Homo sapiens: one gene and its partners. The protein of the gene in region 4 interacts with the protein of the main gene of each other region in a pairwise test. Each region holds a gene or a part of one and is shown on either strand. Other genes may lie near its edges.

Region 1 (3,500 bases), on a different chromosome or scaffold from region 4:
CGCGCCCAGCCTCAATTGTTTAATTTTATGGAAATTTACTTGTCATTTCTTCAGTATCACCTGGCAATTTTTTTGTTGTTTTTGGACCCAGAGTATGGAGCCTGATTCTGAGTCATAGAACTTGGCTACTGGACTTTGTTCGTTGAGCATTCTTCAAAGCCTAGAATTCTTGTAGGACATGAATAGACTTAAACTCCCATAGTTCTGTGGCAGTCTTCAAGGGCAACAAAATGCTATTTGATTATGACTCCAAGTATCCCATAATAAGTGGCATAGGTTCCTGTTCAACTAACTATAATGTGCATGTTGAAATATCATGTGGACTCGATATATTGCTAAGGACACCAAATAATCCTGTTGGATAAAAAATGAGATTGAGTGGTTTGGTGATGTGAGGGCTTTGAGCTATATTGTTTTTATATGTGTATTTATTCCCCAGGACAGTCTCCATGGTTCCCATTATACGTGCTTATTCATTCAAATTAAGAGTAACATTAAGGATTTGGGCCAAAAAGCTATTTACTATTAGTTACTGGAACCAATTTGCCAGCAGATAACAGATTGAGATTATGTCCTGTGATTGAGTGGAGGGGAAGTTTAAAAGTCTTCATGTGTCTGATATTTTGCTTTTATGGAGGGAAGATAATAGCATGCATTTTATTTTCAAGCAAATGTATGTGGGTTTTAAGTGCAGGGTGCTAGAGACCTGGCATAATCGGTTTTCAGTTTTGTGCTTGCTAAGTTACTTTACAAAATTTGAGTTTGTATTAAAATGAAAATTTAAGCTCTGTGTTAGTACTCATGGTGTTTACATTATATTTAAAGCTGCCAATGACAAGCTCCAGAAAGGGCCCAGACTTTCTCGAGGGTAATGGGAAGGAGGAAGCAGTGCATACTTCACTTATTGTTTATGGTTTGAACTTCTAGCTCTCTTAGTGATTTCAAGTTAAGAAAGTGGAAGTAGTGGTCTTCAAAGTAGAATGTGCATAATTTTTTTTTTTTTTAAGACGTAGTCTTGCTCTTGTCGCCTAGGCTGGAGTGCAGTGGCGCGATCTCATTGTTCTCATTGTCCAACTCCCATTTATGAGTGAGAACATGCAGGGTTTGGTTTTCTGTTCCTGTGTTAGTTTGCTGGGAATGATGGTTTCCAGTTTCATCCATGTCCCTGCAAGGGACATGAACTCATCCTTTTTTTTATGGCTGCATAGTATTCCATGGTGTATATGTGCCACATTTTCTTTATCCATTCTGTCATTGATGGGCATTTGGGTTGGTTCCAAGTCTTTGCTATCCAGCAATTGATTTCTGTCTTTGAAATCAACTTGTGGCCCAGAGGGGCCGTAGGAGCACCAGTCATCTTGCTCTTAGCTCAGGCAGTGGGAAGGAAGAAGAGAAGAGGGCAAGTATGCTCTCTCCCTATTTATTTTTTTAGAGCAGTTATAGGTTCTTGGCAAAATAGAGTGGAAAGTTACAGAGAGTTCCCATATCCCCCATCCCTCTCCCCTCTTTCAAGTTCAGAGCTTCCTCAAAATGCCATCCAACAGCTTCTTCTTACACCTCATTGGTCAGAACATAGGCAGGCTGGGCTAAAGGAGACCGGGGAAGAGTAGTTTTTTAGCTGCACACTTTGCTGTTTTATATAATGGCGTTCCTGACCAAGGTAGGCAAGGAAGATTGTTGAGTAGGAAACCTAAAATCTCTGTTTACAGCCATATAAGATAATCTCTTATTTTCTCTTCCTTAAGCAAGAGAAAGTTGAAGTCCATACCATAAACTGGTATTTTTAGAAAGCTGTTTTTTTGGAGGTTGTTTTTGCTGTTGAAATATATCTACTCTGTTTAATTATTATTAGTTCTTAAGGGCTTCATCTTTAGCAGGGAAAACAATCATTTAAAATTATACTAAGAAATCATACAATTACACAAGATACATGGAAGGAGGTATTTTATGTTCATTTGGAAGTACATTAAGTGTTTTATAATGAGATTTGAGGGAATGCTTTACAGAATGGGTAAGAACAATTTAAAACCCTTAAAAAATTTTACATACAGTTCAATATATATGTCATTTGGTACACGCTAGATTTCTGCTATTAATTATTTTAAATTTGCACCAGCAGTAAATGCTTCAATTTGTATTGATTTCAAAGGAAACTATACAAGAGAATCTTTCCTTTTTTTCATCTTTTTCATAGTCGTAGCACATTGCCGAGATAGGGATTGCTTCCTCTGTAAATGTGTTTTCTGTCTTCTCTCCAATCGTTTTTCCAAAAGTGCATACTCCTTCCACGTTACTGCAGACGGTCAGATGCAGCCTGTCCCTTTTCCCCCCGACGCCCTCATCGGACCCGGAATCCCCCGGCATGCTCGCCAGATCAACACCCTCAACCACGGGGAGGTGGTGTGCGCTGTGACCATCAGCAACCCCACGAGACACGTGTACACAGGCGGGAAGGGCTGCGTCAAGGTCTGGGACATCAGCCACCCTGGCAATAAGAGCCCTGTCTCCCAGCTCGACTGTCTGGTGAGTGAACAGGAACTGGTGCACAAGGGCAATTTCTCCCTGGAGATTCAATAAGGAAATAGCTGTGTGGGCCTGGGTTTTATTCCCATTATGAGGAAATAGAAGCCCCTTCTGTTTCCTGTGTTGGTTATTTAACCCCCTCGGCTCCCCATTTAAATGCGAAGGTTTCATTTGTTGCTGTTGTACTGGCTAAATCCCAGAGTTGATGGATTTCTTTTTAAAAAATATTTTACAGTGGTTTACAGAGGCTCTCCTCATGTATGGATGTGTATTACAAAAGAGAGTTTCCCATTTAATGGACAAAAGCACAACTGGGCCTGGACTCTGATCCCTGCCATCCACTCGTTTTTTAATTGACCTACAGCCTTTAGATAAATATAGAATAGTAAATATTTGATAACATGGCATAAAAACCATTCTGAACAGGGTCTGTGTTTTTAAGGGAGACCTGAGAGAGCTGGTTAGGTTTTATGGCCTTAACTTCAGGAAAGGGTTAAAGGCTGTCACTGCAAAGACCCGGGGCAGCCATCAACGAAAGAGAGCAGTGAGAATGCTTTCCCAGAGTACCTAAGCCACGTCCGCTCAGAGCCTGAGAATACCATTTAGCATTTTTCAGGGACATAAAACATGTTGGGACATGTTCGGATCTCTTTTTTCTTTTTTCTTTGAGACGGAGTCTTGCTCTGTCGCCCAGGCTGGAGTGCAGTGGCCGGATCTCGGCTCACTGCAGGCTCCGCCTCCGGGGTTTACGCCGTTCTCCTGCCTCAGCCTCCCAAGTAGCTGGGACTACGGGCGCCCACCACCACGCCCGGCTAATTTTTTGTATTTTTAGTAGAGACGGGGTTTCACCATGTTAGCCAGAATGGTCTCGATCTCCTGACCTTGTGATCCGCCCGCCTTGGCCTTCCAAAGTGCTGGGATTATAGGCGTGAGCCACCGCGCCCGGCCATGTTCCGATTTCTAAACCATAACCCCAG
Region 2 (3,500 bases), on a different chromosome or scaffold from region 4:
GAACGTATTTACCGGGCAGTCAAAGATCTATTCCTACATGAGCCCGAACAAATGCTCTGGAATGCGTTTCCCCCTTCAGGAAGAGAACTCAGTTACACATCACGAAGTCAAATGCCAGGGGAAACCATTAGCCGGAATCTACAGGAAACGAGAAGGTAAGCTTTTGAAATGGCCTCGTTCTGATCCCAGCTGGTCGGGTTGCAGAAGCCTCTGTCCTCTGCAAGAATGCACATATGTATTTATCCAACCTTTTCAGTCTCAGATTCGAGAGGTTTGAGCCATGTTCTGTCTTGCTGCTGAAAGAATGGCTTGTCCCAGGGTGTGTGCCCTGTTGGTTTGACAGGTTTTCCCTGCTTTCACAAGAGTTAGCATATCCTTCAAGCTTGATTGTCTTGCTTAGTTGCAAAAATAACATACCTGACCCACAATTAGAGAGGCTCACAAGTGCTGAAAGTGCAGAAGTCATGAATTCAGGTTGTACAGACCAGGCAATTGCAGACCTAACTAATGTGTTCATGTAGGGAACTGACTTCCTTCCCTTTTATGAGCTGGCCTTGACCCCATTTCTTTTTCTTTTTTTGAGACGGATTTCCGCTCTCGTCCCTCAGGCTGAAGTGCAATGGCACGATCTCAGCTCACTGCAACCTCCGCCTCCTGGGCTCAAGCGATTCTTCTGCTGCAGCCTCCTGAGTAGCTGGGATTACAAGCGGCCGCCACCACGCCCAGCTAATTTTTGTATTTTTGGTAGAGACGGGATTTCACCGTGTTGGCTAGACTGGTCTCAAACTCCTGACCTCAGGTGATCCACCTGCCTTGGCCTCCCAAAATGATGGGATTACAGGCATGAGCCACCGCGCCTAGCTGCCTTGACCCCATTTCTAAAGTTTCCTGCCAATCAAGCATTTGGTGTTAGTTTCTGAAGCAGCATCCTATGCAATGAGATTTGGAGTTAAAATGTTAAACCCGAAAATACAGGGTTAATGAAAACGGTCTGGTCTTGCAAAACAAACTGAAACCTCTTAGACATCTTGCTCTAATCCAAATATTCCCTTTCAAAGCTGCAGTGGGGAGTGTCAGCTTTCCCCAATTCACCATGCTCTCTTCTAATTAAAACTTGTCTGAAAGAAGCAGAGCCTCTGGCTGCCAGCAGCTCCATACAAGGAAGCCTTGTGTTCGCTAACAGAAAGTGTCATAAATGACGATTTGGCATGACCTCTGGGGCCGGATCTGAGAACCAGGGCTGGGCAAGCCCTGAACTGGGGACAGGAGCCCACCCTGTGCTTGATCTCCCCTGGTACACAGGGCAATATTGTTTTATTTGATCTTCAGATGACTTGGGTTCCAATCTTAAGTTTGCCACCTGAAAGAAGGAGGCTTAGATAGGTTGCTGCTCTCTTCTGAGCCTCTGTTCTCTCATCTGTAAATGGGGAGAGAGGAGTCTGACCTCACACACACAGGACTGTTTTGAAGGGTGGTTGCAGCGTGGATGCCAAAGGGCTTTGTGGTGGACTCCATGTGCCAGCTCTTCACCCCTGGACTGCCAGCTCATCCCTGGACCTGTGGCACTTAGAATTCCTGCCCATAGGGTTGGGGAGAGGCGCTGTCTATAAATGGTAGTTGCCCGGACTCTAGTCCTTTAAAATAGGGCAGTCTATACATTGTACCAAATGGTGGCCTGGTATACAAGCTAGTATATTTGGCTCATGGTTTTACTAAATGGCCATGATTAGAATTTTGGGTCAGAGTCCGGGCATGGTGGCTCGGGTTTGTAATTCCAGCACTTTGGTAGGCCAAGGCAGGAGGATTGCTTGAGCCCAGGAGTTTGAGACCAGCCTGGGCAACATAGTGAGGCCTCATCTCTACAACAATGAAAACAAAAAAAATTAGCCTGGCATGGTGGCATGCATCTGTAGTCCCAGCTGCTTGGGAGGCTAAGGCAGGAGGATCCCTAGCACCCAGGAGTTTAAAGCTGCAGTGAGCTATGATCATGCCACTGCACTCCAACCTGGGGAACAGAGAGAAACCCCATCTCTAATATAAAAATAAAAAGAATTTAGGTCAGCTGGACTTTGGAGACCCCAAGGTCCAGGCTGTGGTCCGTGATTCTGCTGTGATACAGACTGAGTGATAGATAATGTTCACGGGCACCACACACTCCTGGGCCTGATGTCCTGGCTTTAATTCTCTCTGATTTCACCCAGGAAGGTGTGTAGAGGAGGAAGAAAGATCTGGATGGTTTTAATGGTTTTTGTTTGTTTTTTTTGAGACACAGTCTCGCTCTGTCTTGCAGTCTGGAGTGCAGTGGTGCAATCTCGGCTCACTGCAACCTCCATCTCCCGGGTTCAAGCAATTATCCTGCCTCAACCTCCCAAGTAGCTGAGATTACAGGTGCCCGCCACCACGCTCGGCTAATTTTTTGTATTTTCAGTAGAGATGGGGTTTCACCATGTTGGCCAGGCTGGTCTTGAACTCCTGACCTCAGGTGGCCCACCCGCCTTGGCCTCCCAAAGTGCTGGGATTACAGGTGAAGTCACTGTGCCCGGCCTAATGTATTTATTTATTTTTCTGTTTTGTTTATCTAGATATAGTTAATATATCATAACGTTCATGTTAAAGCGTATGAGTCGGTGGTTTTTAGTATATTCACAGGGTTGCGCAACCATTACCACAGTCTAATTCCAGAACGTTTCCATCACCCCAGAAAGGTACCCATTAGGCGTCACCTTCGATTCCCCATCCCTCTAGTCCAAGGTAACCATTAAAGTACTTTCTGTCTCTGTGGATTTGCCTGTTTTGGACATTTCATATGGATGGAATCACAAAATACATAGCCTTTTGTGTCTGGCTTCTTTCACTGAGCATCATGTCTTCAAGGTTCATCCGCGGTGTAATAAGTATCAGTGCTTCATTCCTTTTTTTTATTTTTGAGAAGGAGTCTCTCTCTCTCACCCAGGCTGGAGTACAATGGTGCAATCTTGGCTCACTGCAACCTCTGCCTCCCAGGTTCAAGCTATTCTCCTGCCTCAGCCTCCCAAATAGCTGGGATTATAGGCGCACACCACCACGCCTGGCTAATGTTTTTATATTTTTAGTAGAGATGGGGTTTTACCATCTTGGCCAGGCTGGTCTCGAACTCTTGACCTCAGGGGAGCCACCCTGCCCAGCCCTTCATTCCTTTTTATGGCTGGATAATACTCCCTTTTGTGGATAGGCCACATTTTGTTTATTCATCTGTTGATGGACATTTGGGTTGTTTCCACTTTTTGGCTATTACAAATAAACTGTTACGTTCCTGCATAGATTTTTTTGGGGACATATGTTTTTAATTCTCTGGAATAGATGCCTAGGAGTGAAATTGCTGGGTCATATGGTAACTCTGTGTTTAACTTTTTGGGAAAATGTCAAACTGTTTCTAAAGTGGCTGCACCATTTTATATCTGTGAGCAGCGTACTATTTACTTAATTTTTTTTTCTTTTTTTTTTTTTTTTTGAGACAGAGT
Region 3 (3,500 bases), on a different chromosome or scaffold from region 4:
GGGAGGAGGTTCATGAAAGAGGGAGTCAGTGTTTAATGGGTACAGAGTTATAATTTTTTTTTTTTTTGAGATGGAGTCTCGCTCTGTCACCTAGGCTGGAGTGCAGTGCAGCAATCCTGGCTCAGTGCAACCTCCACCCGCCCCCGCGTTCAAACAGTTCTCCTGCTTCAGGCTCCCTAGTGGCTGGGATCACAGGCATGTGCTACCACGCCCAGCTAATTTTTGTATTTTTAGTAGAGATGGGGTTTTGCCATGATGGCCAGGCTGGCCTCGAACTCCTGACCTCAAGTGATCTACCTGCCTCAGCCTCCCGAAGTGCTGGGATTACAGGCATGAGCCACTGGACCCGGCCCAGAGTTTCAATTTTGAGGAGTTACGGAGATGGAGAGTGGTGATGGTTGCACAACATTATTTAATACCAGTAAGCTATATAACTTAAAAATGGTTAAAATGGCAAATTTTATATTATGTGTATCTGACCACGACAACAACAACAACAAAAATTGAAGAAGAAAGAAAAATGTAGAAAGGCAGCTTGAGTTGGGAGAACTGGGCTTCTACAATTAAAGGATGTTTTGCATGGTCAAGAATGAAGGCCAGGCACAGTGGCTCACGCCTGTAATCCCAGCACTTTGGGAGGCTGAGGCGGGCGGAGACCAACCTGGCTAATACGGTGAAACCCGTCTCTATCAAAAATATGAAAATTAGCCGGATGTGGTGGTGCAGGCCTATAATCCCAGCTACTCAGGAGGCTGAGGCATGAGAATCACTTGAACCCCAGAGAAGGAGGTTGCAGTGAGCCAAGATCGTGTCACTGCACTTCAGCCTGGGTGACAGAGCAAGAATCCATCTCAGAAAAAAAAAAAAGAATAAAATCTTGCTCACGCCTGTAATCCCAGCACTTTAGGCCGAGGTGGGTGGAGCACCTGAGGTCAGGGGTTCGAGACCAGACTGACCAACATGGTAAAACTCCATCTCTACTAACAACAGAAAATTAGCCAGGCGTGTTGGCACATGCCTGTAATCCCAGCTACTTGGGAGGCTGAGGTAAGAGAATCACTTGAACTCGGGAGGCGGAGGTTGCAGTGAGCCAAGATCGTGCCATTGCACTCCAGCCTGGGCTACAAGGTGAAACTCCATCTCAAAAAAAAAAAAAAAAAAAAAAGGGCCAGGCACCAGTGGCTCATGTCTGTAATCCCAGCACTTTGGGAGGCCAAGGCTGGTGGATCATCTGAGATCAGGAGTTCAAGACCAGCCTGGGCAACATGGTGAAACCCCGTCTCTACTAAAAATATAAAAGATTAGCCGGGTGTGGTGGTGTTCGCCTGTAATCCCAGGTACTCAGGAGGCTGAGGCAGGAGAATCACTTGAACCCGGGAGGCGGAGGCTGCAGTGAGCCAAGATCATGCCACTGCCTTCCAGCCTGGGAGACAGAGTCAGACTCTGTCTCAAAAAAAAAAAAAGAAAAGAAAAAAAAGAAAAAAGAATGAGCCAGGCATGGTGGCTCATGCCTGTAATCCTAGCACTTTGGGAGGCCGAGGCGGATGGATTATGAGGTCAGCAGATCGAGACCATCCTGGCTAACATGGCGAAACCCCTGTCTCTACTAAAAATACAAAAAATTAGCCGGGCATCGTGGAGGGCATCTGTAGTCCCAGCTACTCAGGAGGCTGAGGCAGGAGAATGGCGTAAACCCGGGAGGCGGAGCTTGCAGTGAGCTGAGATTGTGCCACTGCACTCCAGCCTGGGCAACAATGTGAGACTCCGTCCCAAAAAAAAAAAAAAAAAAAAAAGAAATCTGGGGTGAGGGTGGCAAAGTGCCTCAGTGCTGGTTTCCAGGCTGCCACCTGTTTGATTTGTAGTTAAAATGACTTACTCAAATTTCTAGGGGAAAAAGCACGTTAGCTAGAGAGAGAGGGATGTAAGAGCACTGGGACAGGAGGCAAAGAAACCTGGACTCCAATCGAGGCCCTGCTTATTAGCCAAATGACCTTGGACAAATTACTCATCTCAGTTTCCTCCTCTGTTAGGACAGGATAATAGGTCAGATGTAAGGATTCAATGACATTTAAGACAGTGCTCCAAAAATGCTAGCTATAGTTATCATTATTGTAAAATGCCCACATTTCCAGACCAAGTTTCCACAACCTCGAAATCCCAACACCTGTGCACCTGTAGAAGCAAGAAAGGCATTGGCCGGGCACAGTGGCTCACGCCTGTAATCCCAGCAGTTTGGGAGGCCGAGGCGGGTGGATCACTTGAGGTCAGGAGTTCAAGACTAGCCTGGCGAACATGGTGAAACTCCATCTCTACTAAAAATACAAAAAATTACCCAGGCATGGTGGCGGGCACCTGTAATCCCAGCTACTCAGGAGGCTGAGGCAGGAGAATTGCTTGAACCCAGGAGACAGAGGTTGCAGTGTGCCGAGGTTGCACCACTGCACTTCTGGGCGACAGAGTGAGACTCCGCCTCAACAAAAAAAAAAAAAGAAAGAAAGGAATGTCAATCCACCAGCTATGGACTTTTTCCATATGAGAAAGAGACCTCTTGAAAATCAGGTCTCTACTAGGACAGAGACCCCCAAATATCCTTCTAAGATACCTGGAAGTCAGCCTTTAAAATCTGAGAATTATGTTCCTGACATGGAATAAACTATCACTGAATAAAAACCTTGGTTTAGGCCAGGCGCAGTGGCTCACACCTGTAAACCTAGCACTTTGGGAGGCCCTGGCAGGCGGATCATGAGGTCAGGAGTTCGAGACCAGCCTGGCCAATATGATGAAAGCCAGTCTCTACCAAAAATATAAAAGATTAGCAGGGTGAGGTGGCACACACCTGTAGTACCAGCTACTTGGGAGGCTGAAGCAGGAGAATCACTTGAATCCGGGAGGCAGAGGTTGCAGTGAGCCGAGATTGCACCATTGTACTCTAGCCTGGGCAACGAAGTGAGACTCCACCTCAAAAAAAAAACAAAAAACAAAACAAAACAAAAAAAAACCCTTTGTTTAAATCCCAAGCCCCTCCTCTTGCTCCTTCCCCAAAGTTCACTGATTCAGGCTCCACCACTCTTTCCTAAAACTGTCCTATTTACATTTAGTCACTCATATTAGGCTTCTAAAATTGTACAGGATTTCTGCCAGCTCATTAGTTCCATTATTTGGCAAAAGAGAGGAAGGTCCAGGTAGGACCTAGCCCAAGATCTAGCAAAGTTGTCAAAGCATTATTACAAATTAAGGGTTCAATTTTTTTTTTTTTTTTTTGAGACACAGTTTCACTCTTGTTGCCCAGGCTGAAGCGCAGTGGTGTAATCTCGGCTCACTGCAACCTCTGCCTCTCGGGTTCAAGCCATTCTCCTGCCTCAGCCTCCCTAGTAGCTGGGATGACAGGCACCTGCCACCACGCCTGACTAATTTTTTGTATTTTTAGTAGAGACGGAGTTTCACTGTGTGTTAGCCAGGCTGGTCTTGAACTCCTGACTTCAGGTGATCCATCCGACTTG
Region 4 (2,207 bases):
CCCCATCTCTACTAATACAAAAATTAGCTGGGTGTAGTGGCGCAAAACTGTAATCCCAGCTACTCGGCAGGCTGAGGCAGGAGAATCGCTTGAACCCAGGAGGCGGAAGTTGCAGTGAGCCGAGATCGCGCCGCTGCACTCCAACTCGCAGACAAAGACGAAACAAAAAAAACCCACAAATACTTGTGGATTTGGAGGCTTTTCAAAAACGATTTCCGATTACCACTGTCAAGCTCACTACGGGGGTTACATAAACGTTTCTGGTACTGCACATTCTGTGTACGAGTATTTTCTCCATTACGTAAACAAGCTTACGAATTTTGAGCAAGTTTAGACATTACATCTCGTAATTAGTCCTGCCTACAGTGACCCCGGGTGAATGGCCACACGTGTGCCGCTGTGTTCAAAAAACTGTTCCCCCCAGAACTGACTCAGAACCAAGCAAAATTCCGTACCTACCAAAACCACTCCTCAGTGTTACCACTCTTCAGCTGAGAAAGTAGGGTGGCCCTGAAAAGGGCCTTTTATTGATAGAAAGGGACGCTCAACCACCGAAACCGTAGAGGGTGCGGCCCTGGCGCTTGAGCGCGTAGACCACATCCATGGCGGTGACCGTCTTGCGCTTGGCGTGCTCTGTATAGGTCACGGCGTCCCGGATCACGTTCTCCAGGAACACCTTCAGCACCCCGCGAGTCTCCTCGTAGATGAGGCCGGAGATGCGCTTCACGCCGCCGCGGCGAGCAAGGCGCCGGATGGCCGGCTTGGTGATGCCCTGGATATTGTCGCGCAGTACTTTACGGTGGCGCTTAGCGCCGCCTTTGCCAAGACCCTTCCCGCCTTTGCCGCGGCCAGACATGACGAGCAAGAGGAGTCTCACCCAACGCTTTGTGAGGCCTCTGGCCTGAGGCAGCGCCTTTATACGACAGTTGGCGGACCGAACTGAGAACCTGAAAGAAGTCGGCGGGAAGTCCCGCCCCGGTGGGGGAGGGGAAATCTAAAGGGCCAAACCGAAATAGGGGGGAAAAAAAAGCGAGCTTCTTGTTTCCGTGTTCTGAATTTTGTAATGTGCAAAGTATTCTGTTACCACGTTATGAGGCTTTAAAAAATTGCTTTTGAACGCAGAAGATATACATCAATACTGTGGGGAATACAAAAAAGTGACCGGGCTCGGTGGCTGACGTCTGTGATCCCACCATTTTAGGAGGCCGAGATGGGAGTGTACCTGGGCGTCAGGAGTTTGAGATCTGCGTGAGCAAAATAGCGAGACCCCATCTCTACCAAGACAACAATTAAATTAAATTAAAACATTAGTCCAGCATGATAGCGCTTACACTTTAGGAGACACTCTTTTTTTTAAATATATTAAAAAAAAAAACCAGTACAGTAACAACAGCCTGTTATCCCATCTTCCCATCACACAAAGAGCTCTACTGCTAGCTAATAAGATAATTTGGTGAGCAGATAAATGCACATTTTTTCCCACAAAATGTATGCAGTATATGGCATTTTACAACTTCGCGTTGTTTTAATCAATTTCCCTTATTTAAAAAGTTTACAAAAGTGATTTTAATGTCTTTATTATTTCTTCTCCTGAATTCTGCCTGCTACAGTGTTAACCAATTCCCTAGGAATTTATTAATCAACCAGATTTTTTAAATAATTCATCTTTTCCCTGCGGATTAAGTACCACCTTTAACATTATACATACTCGGAACTATTACCAAAATTCTATTCTGTCTATAATTTAATCAAGGTGGTTTGCCAAAGGGAATCTATGTTCACGGTTAAAAGCTTAGAAAATTCACATTAGGAAAAATTTTAAAAGCAGTAATTTATATCTGCTTAATATTCCATCATAAGAATTTTCTAGGTCCACTTTCACAGTATTTCTAGTACTTAGCAATAATGTGCTAATTTTCTTTTCCTAATTTAAAGGAGAACTGTACAAAATTTACTTCCTGAGGAAAATGTAGAATTGAAGCGCTTTGTCACAAAGGATGCAGATTTTAAGGTATTTTGATAACTGTTACTACATTTTCCTCAAAAGTTTTATTCCATTCACTTTTGCCAGCAGTAACTGCTGTGTATGTTTACCAGCATTGAGTATTATGGTTTTTAAATTCTATGTTACATTCAGAATTTACTTTTAGTTTTGTTGATTGAGTCTTGAGTTAATGAACTAGTTACCCAGCAAGATTTATTGATTT
Region 5 (3,500 bases), on a different chromosome or scaffold from region 4:
AGTTCTGATGCAAGTACTCAAAAGAGAAGACAATGTGAAAACAGAACAGAGAGATATGCCAAGGAATGCTGACCATAATCAGAAGCTAAAAGAGGCAAAGAACAGTCTCTCTCCTAGAGCCTCCAGAGGGGCCTCAATATCTTGATTGCAGACTTCTGGGCTCCAAAATTTTGAGAAGAATAAATTCCTCTTGTTTTAAACCACCAAGTCTGTGGTAATTTGTTATAGCAGCCACAGGAAACTAATACATAGGGGGAATAAAATTTTAAACATCATAAAGTGGACATATATAAAACATTACTGATCCAAAAAGAATTGTGTTTCAGATAACCCAAAGAATGTCTAAAACCTTTAATCCCTCATTTCAAAGGGTAAATTGAGGCTACTGCAGGATACAATTTGCCCCAAAGAAATTGGCAGATCTGAGAAGAGAAACTCAGAAAGATCTAATATTTACATAGCTGCTAACAAGAACAGTGTAGGTTTTTCTGCAAACATGCTAGTTGGTAGAGCTCCTGGACAGACTAAACATAGGCAGCAGTTGTCACAGTGGGTGTTCTTCCAGCACAAGTGTAAAGCTGTCATCAGAAATGAATATGTGGCTTCGAGTGGCTTACAGAAATCCAACAAATCTGCATCTTGGACTCTGGACAAGCGAACTCTTCTCAGGATGACCTGGACTCCTTCCTATTAGTACAATGATCAGTTAAAATCATTCTCTATAAGCAAGGAAGAAAAATAAAAGTTTATATCAGGAGAAAAAGATGATTGCCCAGAGTCCGAGTTCACGAATAGCAGATATGTAAACAGCCATACTAAGTCAAGTGGTATCTCATGTTGTAATTTATTACTTTTAAAATCAATATCCATAACACAGCTTTAGGCCCAGTTTCATGTAAGATGAATGGAAATAAAAATAATCTAAGTAAAAGGACAAAATAAAGACTAGAAATGCTTTACCAGGACAGTTATTAATTAAATGGGCTATACCAATAAGATATGGAAATCATGCTATGTGGTTAAAGACCTCAATAGAGCCGGGCACAGTGGCTCATGCCTGTAATTCTAACACTTTGGGAGGCCGAGGCGGTTGGATCATGAGGTCAGTAGATTGAGACCATCCTGGCTAACACGGTGAAATCCTGTCTCTACTAAAAATACAAAAAAATTAGCCAGGCATGGTGGCACGTGCCTGTAGTCCCAGCTACTCGGGAGGCTGAGGCAGGAGGATCGCTTGAATCCGGGAGGCAGAGGTTGCAGTGAGCCGAGATCACGCCACTGCACTCTAGCCTGGGTGACAGAGCGCGACTCTGTCTCAAAAACAAACAAATCTCAATAGAAACAAAAAGCGACTTAGTCTTCCTCAAAAATCTTTGTACCCTGATACCAAACCTTTCTCTTTTCTAGAGTATTGTTAAGGGCTCTGAGAATCTCCAGAATTTCCCTAGCCATATACAAATCCAGCCGCTTCAAATGTAGGCTCACTCTTTCTTTCCCCAACTATCATCCTGCTCACCTACTACCCAAATTGAAGCTTTCCACTTACTAGTTTTCAGACAGAATATATTCCCCTTTAGTAAACACCCCTTTTAGATTTGGTTGCAATAGTAGGTATGTCTCTAAGTTTTTTTTTCTTTTTTGAGACAGTCTCGCTCTGTCACCCAGGCTGGAGTACAGTGGTGCAATCTCGGCTCACTGTAACCTCCGCCTCCCAGGCTCAGCAATTCTCCTGCCTCAGCCTCCAGAGTAGCTGGGGCTACAGGCGTGTGCCACCACGCCCGGCTAATTTTTTGTATTTTTAGCGGAGATGGGGTTTCACCGTGTTAGCCAGGATGGTCTCAATCTCCTGAACTCATGATCTGCCCGCCTCGGCCTCCCAAAGTGCTGGGATTACAGGCATAAGCCACTGCGCCCAGGCAGTATGTCTCTAAGTTCTAAGCACAAGCGTTATAACTTCTGTAATTAGAGGCCCAACACGTATCACATTGGAAGTTAGGATTTCTAACTCTGTGATAGTACCAGAATTTCAATGAAAAATTACCCACTAAAATTTCACCACCAGAGAGAAAAGTTCATCATATCTATTAACTACCACATTGGAGGCTGGGCACAGTGGCTCACACCTGTAATCCCAGCACTTTGGGAGGCCAAGGCAGGCAGATCACCTAAGGTCAGGAGTTTGAGGCCAGCCTAACCAACATGGAGAAACCCCGTCTCTACTAAAAATTAGCCGGACGTATGCCTGTAATCCCAGCTACTCAGGAGGCTGGAGCAGGAGAATTGCTTGAACCTGGGAGGCGGAGGTTGAGGTGAGTCAAGATCGTGCCACCGCACTCCAGACTGGGCAACAAGAGCGAGACTCCATTCCAAAAAAAAAAAAAAAAAAAACCTATCACATTGGGAGACATTTTGCAATATTTTTATTGTTTTCCCTCTTTAAGCATTGTGAGACTTCACAATAAAACAAGCAGTTTTCACTTGCACACGACAGTAAACTAGAAAGTCTCGGTTTGGCTCCTATAATCTTTCAAAGTAAAACACATGAGTAAAAACACCAAATAATGGGTCACTGCTTAATCTGTTTACATAGATACTCCTTGATGGGGTTATGTCCTGATAAACCCATCATAGGTTGAAAATATGAAAAATTGAAAATTCATTTCCTACACCTAATCTACTGAACATCATAGCTTAGCCTAGCCTACCTTAAATGTGTTCAGAATACTTACATTAGCCTACTGTTGGACAAAATCACCTAACACAAAGCCTGTTTTATAATAAAGTGTTGAATATCTCATGTAATTGGTTGATTACTGTACCGAAAGTGAAAAACAGAATGGTTATGTGGATACTTGAAATATGGTTTCTACTGAATGCAAATTGCTTTCCACACCGTTGTAAAGGTGAAAAATCTTAAGTCGAAATATCACAAGCAAGGGACCATCTGTACAAGTGGCTGGGGCTGGAGATGGAAGGAACTGACTCAGAAAGCAATCAAAGTTGGCATGATTTGGTGACCTATTCTTCAGATCAGCAGTCTTTTTCCCCCAAAACCCTGGGTCTATAAACAGCTGTGAAATCAGTTCAATGGAAATTGACTGCTTTCTTAAGACAATGAAATAGTATACTGCAGACAAAAGAATATCAGAGTACTCTGCACGTTTAGTGAAATGTTTCAATGTGTGTACAGGATTAGTGTAAAATATATTTCTTATTGCGGTCAAAAAAGTTTTGAGACGTGGATCCAAAAGAATCCCAGGAAAAGAAAGAGGCTAGCTAGAATCAAGTGAAAAAGAAGGATGTGAGGCAAAGTCTACCTTCTTCAAAAACATATTTGCCATTATTTTAGGAAGCCAAACAAGGACAAGATGCAATCAATCGTATGTGTAAGTTTAAGCAGCAAAAAGTGGTAAAAACTTTTTTTTTCTGAGACAAGGTCTCACTCTGTCGCCCAGACTGGGGTGCAGTGGCATCATCTCGGCTCACTGCAAACTCTGCCT
Region 6 (3,500 bases), on a different chromosome or scaffold from region 4:
CAGAAAAACTGTGGTTCTCCTTTGGCTTCAGTGCTACCAAAAACTTCCTGATTCTTCTGATATTTCCTTGATACCATTTGTCTTTTTTTTTCCTTTTCCTTTTTTTTTTTTTTTGAGACAGGGTCTCTTGCTCTGTCACCTGAGGTGGAGTACAGTGGTGTAATCACGGCTACGGCTCACTGCAGCCTCAACCTCCTGGGCTCAAATGACTCTCCCACCTCAGCCTCCCAAGTAGCTGGGACTGCAGGGGTACGCCACCACACCTGGCTAATTTTTGTAGAGACAGGGTTCCTACAGGCTGTTCTCAAACTGCTAGGCTCAAGCGATCTGCCCACCTTGGCCTCCCAAAGTGCTGGAACTACAGGCATGAGCCACCATGTCCAGCCCTGTCTGCTTTTTAACTGTCACTGTACTAGCAGGTTTCTGACCTTTCTCCTTTTATCACTGTATATGCTTTCCTCAGGTGACCTTAACCAGCCTTATGGTTTTAACTCTTACCTATATACTGACATTGCTTAAATCCTTGCCCTTAGACTAGAATTTTCTTCAGATTTTCTATTTTCTGCTGCCTCCCAAATCTCTCCTAGGCTGTGAAAACTCACATTTTCACATCCTTCTCTCAGTTTTTCCTCTCATATGTTTCTAGAGTCCTTGACCCCTTGGTCTTCTTGTGCTGTTCCAGTTCATGCCCTCATCGTTTTTTATGTGATGTAATAACTCAGCTTCTTGATTGGTCTCTATGCACTTCTTTTTGCTACCATTTCTTTGTAGCTGAAAGAGTGACTTATTTAAAACTCAAAATTTGTGCATATTGCTTACATTCCTATTTAAAATCTGTCATGAAGGCTGGGGCAGTGGCTTACGCCAGTAACTCTAATACTTTGGGAGGTTGAGGCAGGAGGATTGCTTGAAGCTGGGAGTTGAAGATCAGCCTGGGCAACAAAGTGAGATCCCATTTCTACAAAAAAAAAAAAAAAAAAAAATAGCCGAGTGTGGTGCATATGCCTATGGTCCCAGCTGCTCAGGAGGCTGAGGTGGGAGGATGGCTTGAGTCTAGGAGGTTGAGGCTGCAGTGAACTATGATCGTGCCACATTAAATTATCCATACCATAATCATTTGTGTTACCCACTAGACTGCTTGAGGGCAACTACTTTTATTGCCTTTCCTCTGGTTTCTAGCACAATTCCTTGCTCATGGCAGATATTAAATATATCCTGTGTTCTTTTGGGAAAGTGTCATTATTTTTACTTTGAAAATGTTCGCATTTTCTTTTGTTTCATTCTAGCAACACGCTAGAAGGGTTTATGAAATTCTTCGACTACTGGTAACTGACATGAGTGATGCCGAACAATACAGAAGCTACAGACTGGATATTAAAAGAAGACTAATTAGCCCATATAAGGTAGGACTTTCAAGAATCTTAAACACTGTATTCTTTTCACTGTTTAAAACAGAAGAAAAGCTACCAAATATCAGTATATGAGAGAGTCCAAGTCATTTTGTAAAATTAACTTTTACAAAAGTAGAAATATTCTTCCAGTAATTTATAAAAATTCTCACTCATGGCCGGGCGTGGTGGCCCACACCTGTAATCCCAGCACTCAGGGAGGCCAAGGCGGGTGGATCACCTCAGGTCAGAAGTTCAAGACCAGCCTGGCCAACGTGGTGAAACCCTGTCTCTACTAAAAATACAAACATTAGCTAGGCTTGGTGGTGGGCGCCTGTAATACAGTGACTTGGGAGGCTGAAGCAGGAGAATCGCTTGAATCCAGGAGGTGGAGGTTGCTGTGAGCCAAGATTGCACCATTGCACTCCAGCCTGGGTGACAAGAGCAAAACTCCATCTGAAAAGAAAAGAAAAGAAAAGAAAAAAAACCCGGGTGCAGTGGCTCACGCCTGTAATCCCAGCACTGTGGGAGGCCGAGGTAGGTGGATCACTTGAGGTCAGGAGTTCAAGACCACCCTGGCCAACATGGCGAAACCCCATCTCTACTAAAAATACAAAAATTAGCTGGGCATGATAACACGTGCCTGTAATCCCAGCTGTTTGAGAGGCTGAGGCACGAGAATCACTTGAACCCAAGAGGTGGAGGTTGCAGTGAGCTGAGATTGTGCCACTGCACTTCAGCCTGGGTGACAGAATGAAATTGTGTCTCAGAACAAACAAACAAACTTATCCCAAGGATAGTCTACCATGGTTAGCTTTTCTTTCATTTGTATGCATCTTTAAAAAATCTGAATGCCTAGTCTCTTCCCTAACAAATTATGTTGTTTTTCCCAAGTTTCTTGTCTTCTCAGTTGTTATATATATATATTCTCTTTTTTCTCTCTTCCCAGATAAAAGCAAAGTTATACATATATATTCTCTTTGCTTTTGCTTTCTTCTTCCTAAAAATAGCCTTTATTGCTATTTATTAATATAATCTTTGTACTTTACCATAGCCGAAACCATGTTAGTACTATTATATTTTTAAACATTCTTCTTGCCCTTTTTTCCCACTTCGTCGTCATCTTCCATATTTTCCCTCCTAGATCAAATTGGCCTTATCATTTGGACATTGTCAGGATGGATATTGTTTATGCCACCTTATGTGAATGAAAATTTGCTATCTAGGCAAGGCGTGGTGGCTCATGCCTGTAATCCCAGCACTTTGGGAGGCCGAGGTGGGCAGGTCACCAGAGCTCAGGAGTTCAAGACCAGCCTGGCCAACATGGCAAAACCTCGCCTCTACTAAAAATACAAAAATTAGTTGGGTGTGGTGGTGGGTACCTGTAATCCCAGCTACTTGGGAGGCTGAGGCAAGGGCATCACTTGAACTCGGGAGGCAGAGGTTGCAGTGAGCTGAGATCATACCACTGCAATCCAGGCTGGGCAATGGAGCAAGACTCCATCTCAAAAAAAAAAAAAAAATTTAAAAAAAAAAAAAGGCCAGGTGCGGTGGTTCACGTCTATAATCCCAGCAATTTGGGAGGCTGAGGCGGGCAGATCATCTGAGGTCAGGAGTTCGAGACCAGCCTGGCCAACATGGTGAAACCCTGTGTCTACTAAAAATACACAAATTAGCCAGGCATGGTGGGAGGTGCCTGTAATCCCAGCTTCTCCGGAGGCTGAGGCAGGAGAATTGCTTGAACCTGGGAGGCAGAGGTTGCAGTGAGCCAAGATTGCGCCATTGTACTCCAGCCTGGGTGACGAGCAAAATTCCATCTCAAAAAAGAAGAAAATTTGTCATCTAGTTGCAGCTGAGTAGTGGGATGATTGGCAGAATATTTAATTTATTCAACATATAATTATTGAGTACAGTTGCTCAATGATAAAATGTTGTTGCTGCATTTATATATACTATACCTATAGGGTTATACATCACAATAGCTGGGAACATAAGTGACCAAGTTGATTCTACATTACAATTTGAGAAAGTAAATTAACTAACTGTATCAGGTACACATAGTTTTGGTTTTCCTTTGTAAATTTAAAGAAAATTTAAGTTTTATTTGCCATG
Region 7 (3,500 bases), on a different chromosome or scaffold from region 4:
TTTTTAATGTTTAGTTCTCATTTTTCCTGAGATTCACAGAGAATAAATTTTGTGTTTCCTTGTTCAGCTCTGACTACTCCATCTTTTTTTTTTTTTGAGGTGGAGTCTCGCTCGTTCCCCAGGCTGGAGTGCAATGGTGCAGTCTCGGCTCACTGCAACCTCCACCTCCCGGGTTCAAGCAATTCTCCTGTCTCAGCCTCCCGAGTAGCTGGGATTACATACAGGCGCCTGCCACCACGCCTGGCTAATTTTTGTATTTTTAGTAGAGACGGGGTTTCACCGTCTCTACTGTCACCCAAGTTGGAGTGTAGTGGTGCAATCATGGCTTACTGCAGCCTCGACTGCCCAGGCTCAAAATGATCCTCCTTGCTCAGCCTCCCAAGTAACTGGAGGTATAGATAGGCATGTGCTACCGCGCTCAGCTAATATTTTTTATTATTTGCTGCCCAGTTTGGTCTTGAACTCCTGGGCTCAAGCGATCCTCCTGCCTCAGCCTCCCAAAGTGCTGGGATTATAGGCATGAGCCACTGCATCCGGCTGACACCTTAACTCCTTTTATTTATTTTTTTTTTTGAGACAGAATCTCGCTCTGTCGCCAGGCTAGAGTGCAGTGGCGTGATCTCGGCTCACTGCAGCCTCCGCCTCCTGGGTTCAAGCAATTCTCCTGCCTCAGTCTCCTGAGCAGCTGGGATTACAGGCGCCCACCACCACACCTAGCTAATTTTTGTATTTTTAGCAGAGGCAGGGTTTCACCATGTTGGCCAGGATGGTCTCGATCTCTTGACCTCGTGATCCACCCGCCTTGGCCTCCCAAAGGGCTGGGATTACAGGTGTGAGCCACCGTGCCCGGCCAACCTTAACTCTTAAAACATCTACCTTGCTGGCCAACCTGCTGACCGATGAGAGAATTTACATAAAGGCATGTTGAAGAAATGTGGGGCTCTGCAGGTGAAAGGCTGTATCCTTCCTGCCATCCTTATTGTCTGATTTTTGCTACACATGAGGAGCAAACTCACCTGCCTTCTGTTTCTCACATGGAATTCAGCCAGGGGCTTCAGTCTCCTCAGCCTTTTTTCCCTTTTTGTTAAGGCTTTTTCTTTTCTTTTTTTTTTTTTTTTTTGAGATGGAGTGTCGCTCTGTCACCCAGGCTGGAGTGCAGTGGCACAATCTTGGCTCATTGCAGCCTCCGCCTCCCAGGTTCAAGTGATTTTCCTTCCTCGGCCTCCCGAGTAGCTGGGAGCCCGCCACCACGCCCGGCCAATTTTTTTGTATTTTTAGTAGAGATGGGGTTTCACCATATTGGCCAGGCTGGTCTCGCTTTTTCTTCTTTTAGCACACTTGTTTTCCTTTTAAATTAACCAGCCCTATGTCTATTCCTTTCGTCCTAATACATAGCAGATTACCTTTAAAGTAAAAACATAACTTTTTTTTTTTTTTTTTGAGACAGAGTCTCGCTGTGTTGCCCAGGCTGGAGTGCAGTGGCACAATCTCACTCACTGCAATCTCTGCCTCCCAGGTTTAAGCGATTCTCCTACCTCAGCCTCCCATGTAGCTGGGATTACAGGTGCCCACCACCACGCCTGGCTAATTTTTTTGTATTTTTAGTAGAGACGGGGTTTCACCATGTTGGTCAGGCTGGTCTCGAACTGTTGGCCTCAAGTGATCAGCCTGCCTTGGCCTCCCAAATGCTGGGATTACAGGCATGAGCCACCGTGCCCAACCTAAAAACCTAAATTCATGAAACAGATTAGTTGACAATAGGGGAGTTAATTGTATTTCAGAGAGAATGTTAGGTCTCTAAAATTTATTATTCCCTAGGTTGACATTAAAGTGTAAGGCAGTTACTTAGTCAGATTTTTTTTTTTTTTTTTTTGAGATGGAGTCTTACTCTGTGGCGCGGGCTAGAGTGCAGTGGTGCTATTTAGGCTCACTGCAATCTCCGCCTCCTGGGTTCAAGCAATTCTCCTGCCTCAGCTTCCCAAGTAGCTGGGACTATAGGCGCCCGCCACACCACCCGGCTAATTTTTTGTATTTGTTGTAGATACAGGGTTTCACCATGTTAGACAGGATGGTCTTGATCTCCTGACCTTGTGATCCGCCTGCCTGGGCCTCCCAAGTGCTGGGATTACAGGCGTGAGCCATTGCTGCTGGCCAGCTCTGCTAATTTTTAAAGTTTTTGTAGAAATAGGATTTTGCCATGTTGCTGGTCTCAAACTCTTGGGCTCAAGTGATCCTCCTGCCTCAGCCTCCCAAAGTGTTGGGATTACAGGCATGAGCCACTGTACTTGGCTAGTTTGAATCTAAAAGAAGTTTTTTTTTTTTTAATTAAATTTTCAGTATTAAGCTAAAGAGTATAGATATTTTTAGACTGGGTGCATTGGCTAACTTCTATAATCCCATCACTTTGGGAGGCCGAGGTTGGAGGATCACTGGAGGCCAGGAATTTGAGACCAACCTGGGCAACATTGCAGGACTTCATTTCTACAAAAAATAAAAACACCAGATGTGGTGGTGTACACTTGCAGTCCTGGCTACTCGGGAGGTTAGGGCAGGAGGATTGCTTGAGCCCAGGAGTTCGAGGCTACAGTAAGCTATGATCACACCACTGTGCTCCAGGCTGGGCAGCAGAGCAAGGATCTTGTATAGTTTTTTTTAAGGTATAGTTTTCTTTTCTTTTTTTGAGACAGAGTTTTACTCTATGGCCGAGGCTGGAGTGCAGTGGCGTTAGTTAGCTCAGCTCACTGCAGACTCCTCCTCCTGGGTTTAAGTAATTCTCCTGCCTCAGCCCCCACCCTAAATAGCTGGGATTACAGGCGTGTGCCACCACGCCCCTCTAATTTTTGTATTTTTAGTAGAGACCAGGTTTCACCATGTTGGCCAGGCTGGTCTTGAACTCCTGACCTCAGGTGATCCGCCCCCGCCAGGCCTCCCAAAGTGCTGGGATAACAGGTGTGAGCCACACCCCTGGCCAAAGTGTAGATATTTTTATGGCTTTATGTAGATAGGTAGATATAAATATGCGTATATGTGAGTACGTATTTTCCTAATTGGAATATTGGATGTGCAAAAATCTATATTTTTAGAGCTATTTTATATTTTTACTAAAATATTTGTTGTTTTTAGGAGTGATTACTTGGTGAGTGTCAGCCACTGCGTAGGGCGCTTGGGCATATAGCAGGGGTACTTACAAATGAGCCCTCTTGGAGCAGCTTCCTTTTGGCTGGTTCAGGGAGGTGAATGCTGTTGGAAAGCCTTAGCTCTTCACATGCTGCTGGGTTTTGGTTGTCTGTGGATATGTAGGGACCTTGGGTCTTGGTCTGTAAGCCCATTTTCTCCCTGGGTGGCCACCTGAATCTAGCAAGGTGTAGTTTAAGTAGAGTCTCTTCAGAGAGTTGAGGATGTTGTGCTTGTTAAGGAAGACCGGTTTACATCTGTGTGTACATTACCTTCCTCAGGCTTCCTCAGGCCCAGTGCTCATGGAAGGGACGTTGAGGGACTGA

Evidence for each region.
Region 1: the proteins of H4C11 (region 4) and TLE1 interact in binary tests that used the Homo sapiens proteins (3 or more experiments, as listed by UniProt).
Region 2: the proteins of H4C11 (region 4) and KMT5A interact in binary tests that used the Homo sapiens proteins (3 or more experiments, as listed by UniProt).
Region 3: the proteins of H4C11 (region 4) and PHF20 interact in binary tests that used the Homo sapiens proteins (3 or more experiments, as listed by UniProt).
Region 5: the proteins of H4C11 (region 4) and CBX5 interact in binary tests that used the Homo sapiens proteins (3 or more experiments, as listed by UniProt).
Region 6: the proteins of H4C11 (region 4) and HAT1 interact in binary tests that used the Homo sapiens proteins (3 or more experiments, as listed by UniProt).
Region 7: the proteins of H4C11 (region 4) and KDM4A interact in binary tests that used the Homo sapiens proteins (3 or more experiments, as listed by UniProt).

The regions. Positions count from the first base shown.
Region 1 is NC_000009.12:81,592,048-81,595,547, reverse strand, and holds part of TLE1 (transducin-like enhancer protein 1), read left to right. Parts: intron 1-2,273; coding exon 2,274-2,523; intron 2,524-3,500. UniProt on the Homo sapiens protein: Transcriptional corepressor that binds to a number of transcription factors. Inhibits NF-kappa-B-regulated gene expression. Inhibits the transcriptional activation mediated by FOXA2, and by CTNNB1 and TCF family members in Wnt signaling.
Region 2 is NC_000012.12:123,390,632-123,394,131, forward strand, and holds part of KMT5A (N-lysine methyltransferase KMT5A), read left to right. Parts: coding exon 1-155; intron 156-643; exon of another isoform or gene 644-799; intron 800-3,500. UniProt on the Homo sapiens protein: Protein-lysine N-methyltransferase that monomethylates both histones and non-histone proteins. Specifically monomethylates 'Lys-20' of histone H4 (H4K20me1).
Region 3 is NC_000020.11:35,778,515-35,782,014, reverse strand, and holds part of PHF20 (PHD finger protein 20), read right to left. Parts: intron 1-3,500. UniProt on the Homo sapiens protein: Methyllysine-binding protein, component of the MOF histone acetyltransferase protein complex.
Region 4 is NC_000006.12:27,822,774-27,824,980, reverse strand, and holds H4C11 (histone H4), read right to left. Parts: upstream 890-2,207; 5' UTR 857-889; coding exon 545-856; 3' UTR 501-544; downstream 1-500. UniProt on the Homo sapiens protein: Core component of nucleosome. Nucleosomes wrap and compact DNA into chromatin, limiting DNA accessibility to the cellular machineries which require DNA as a template.
Region 5 is NC_000012.12:54,273,623-54,277,122, forward strand, and holds part of CBX5 (chromobox protein homolog 5), read right to left. Parts: intron 1-3,500. UniProt on the Homo sapiens protein: Component of heterochromatin that recognizes and binds histone H3 tails methylated at 'Lys-9' (H3K9me), leading to epigenetic repression. In contrast, it is excluded from chromatin when 'Tyr-41' of histone H3 is phosphorylated (H3Y41ph).
Region 6 is NC_000002.12:171,977,961-171,981,460, forward strand, and holds part of HAT1 (histone acetyltransferase type B catalytic subunit), read left to right. Parts: intron 1-1,286; coding exon 1,287-1,403; intron 1,404-3,500. UniProt on the Homo sapiens protein: Histone acetyltransferase that plays a role in different biological processes including cell cycle progression, glucose metabolism, histone production or DNA damage repair. Coordinates histone production and acetylation via H4 promoter binding.
Region 7 is NC_000001.11:43,656,649-43,660,148, forward strand, and holds part of KDM4A (lysine-specific demethylase 4A), read left to right. Parts: intron 1-3,500. UniProt on the Homo sapiens protein: Histone demethylase that specifically demethylates 'Lys-9' and 'Lys-36' residues of histone H3, thereby playing a central role in histone code. Does not demethylate histone H3 'Lys-4', H3 'Lys-27' nor H4 'Lys-20'.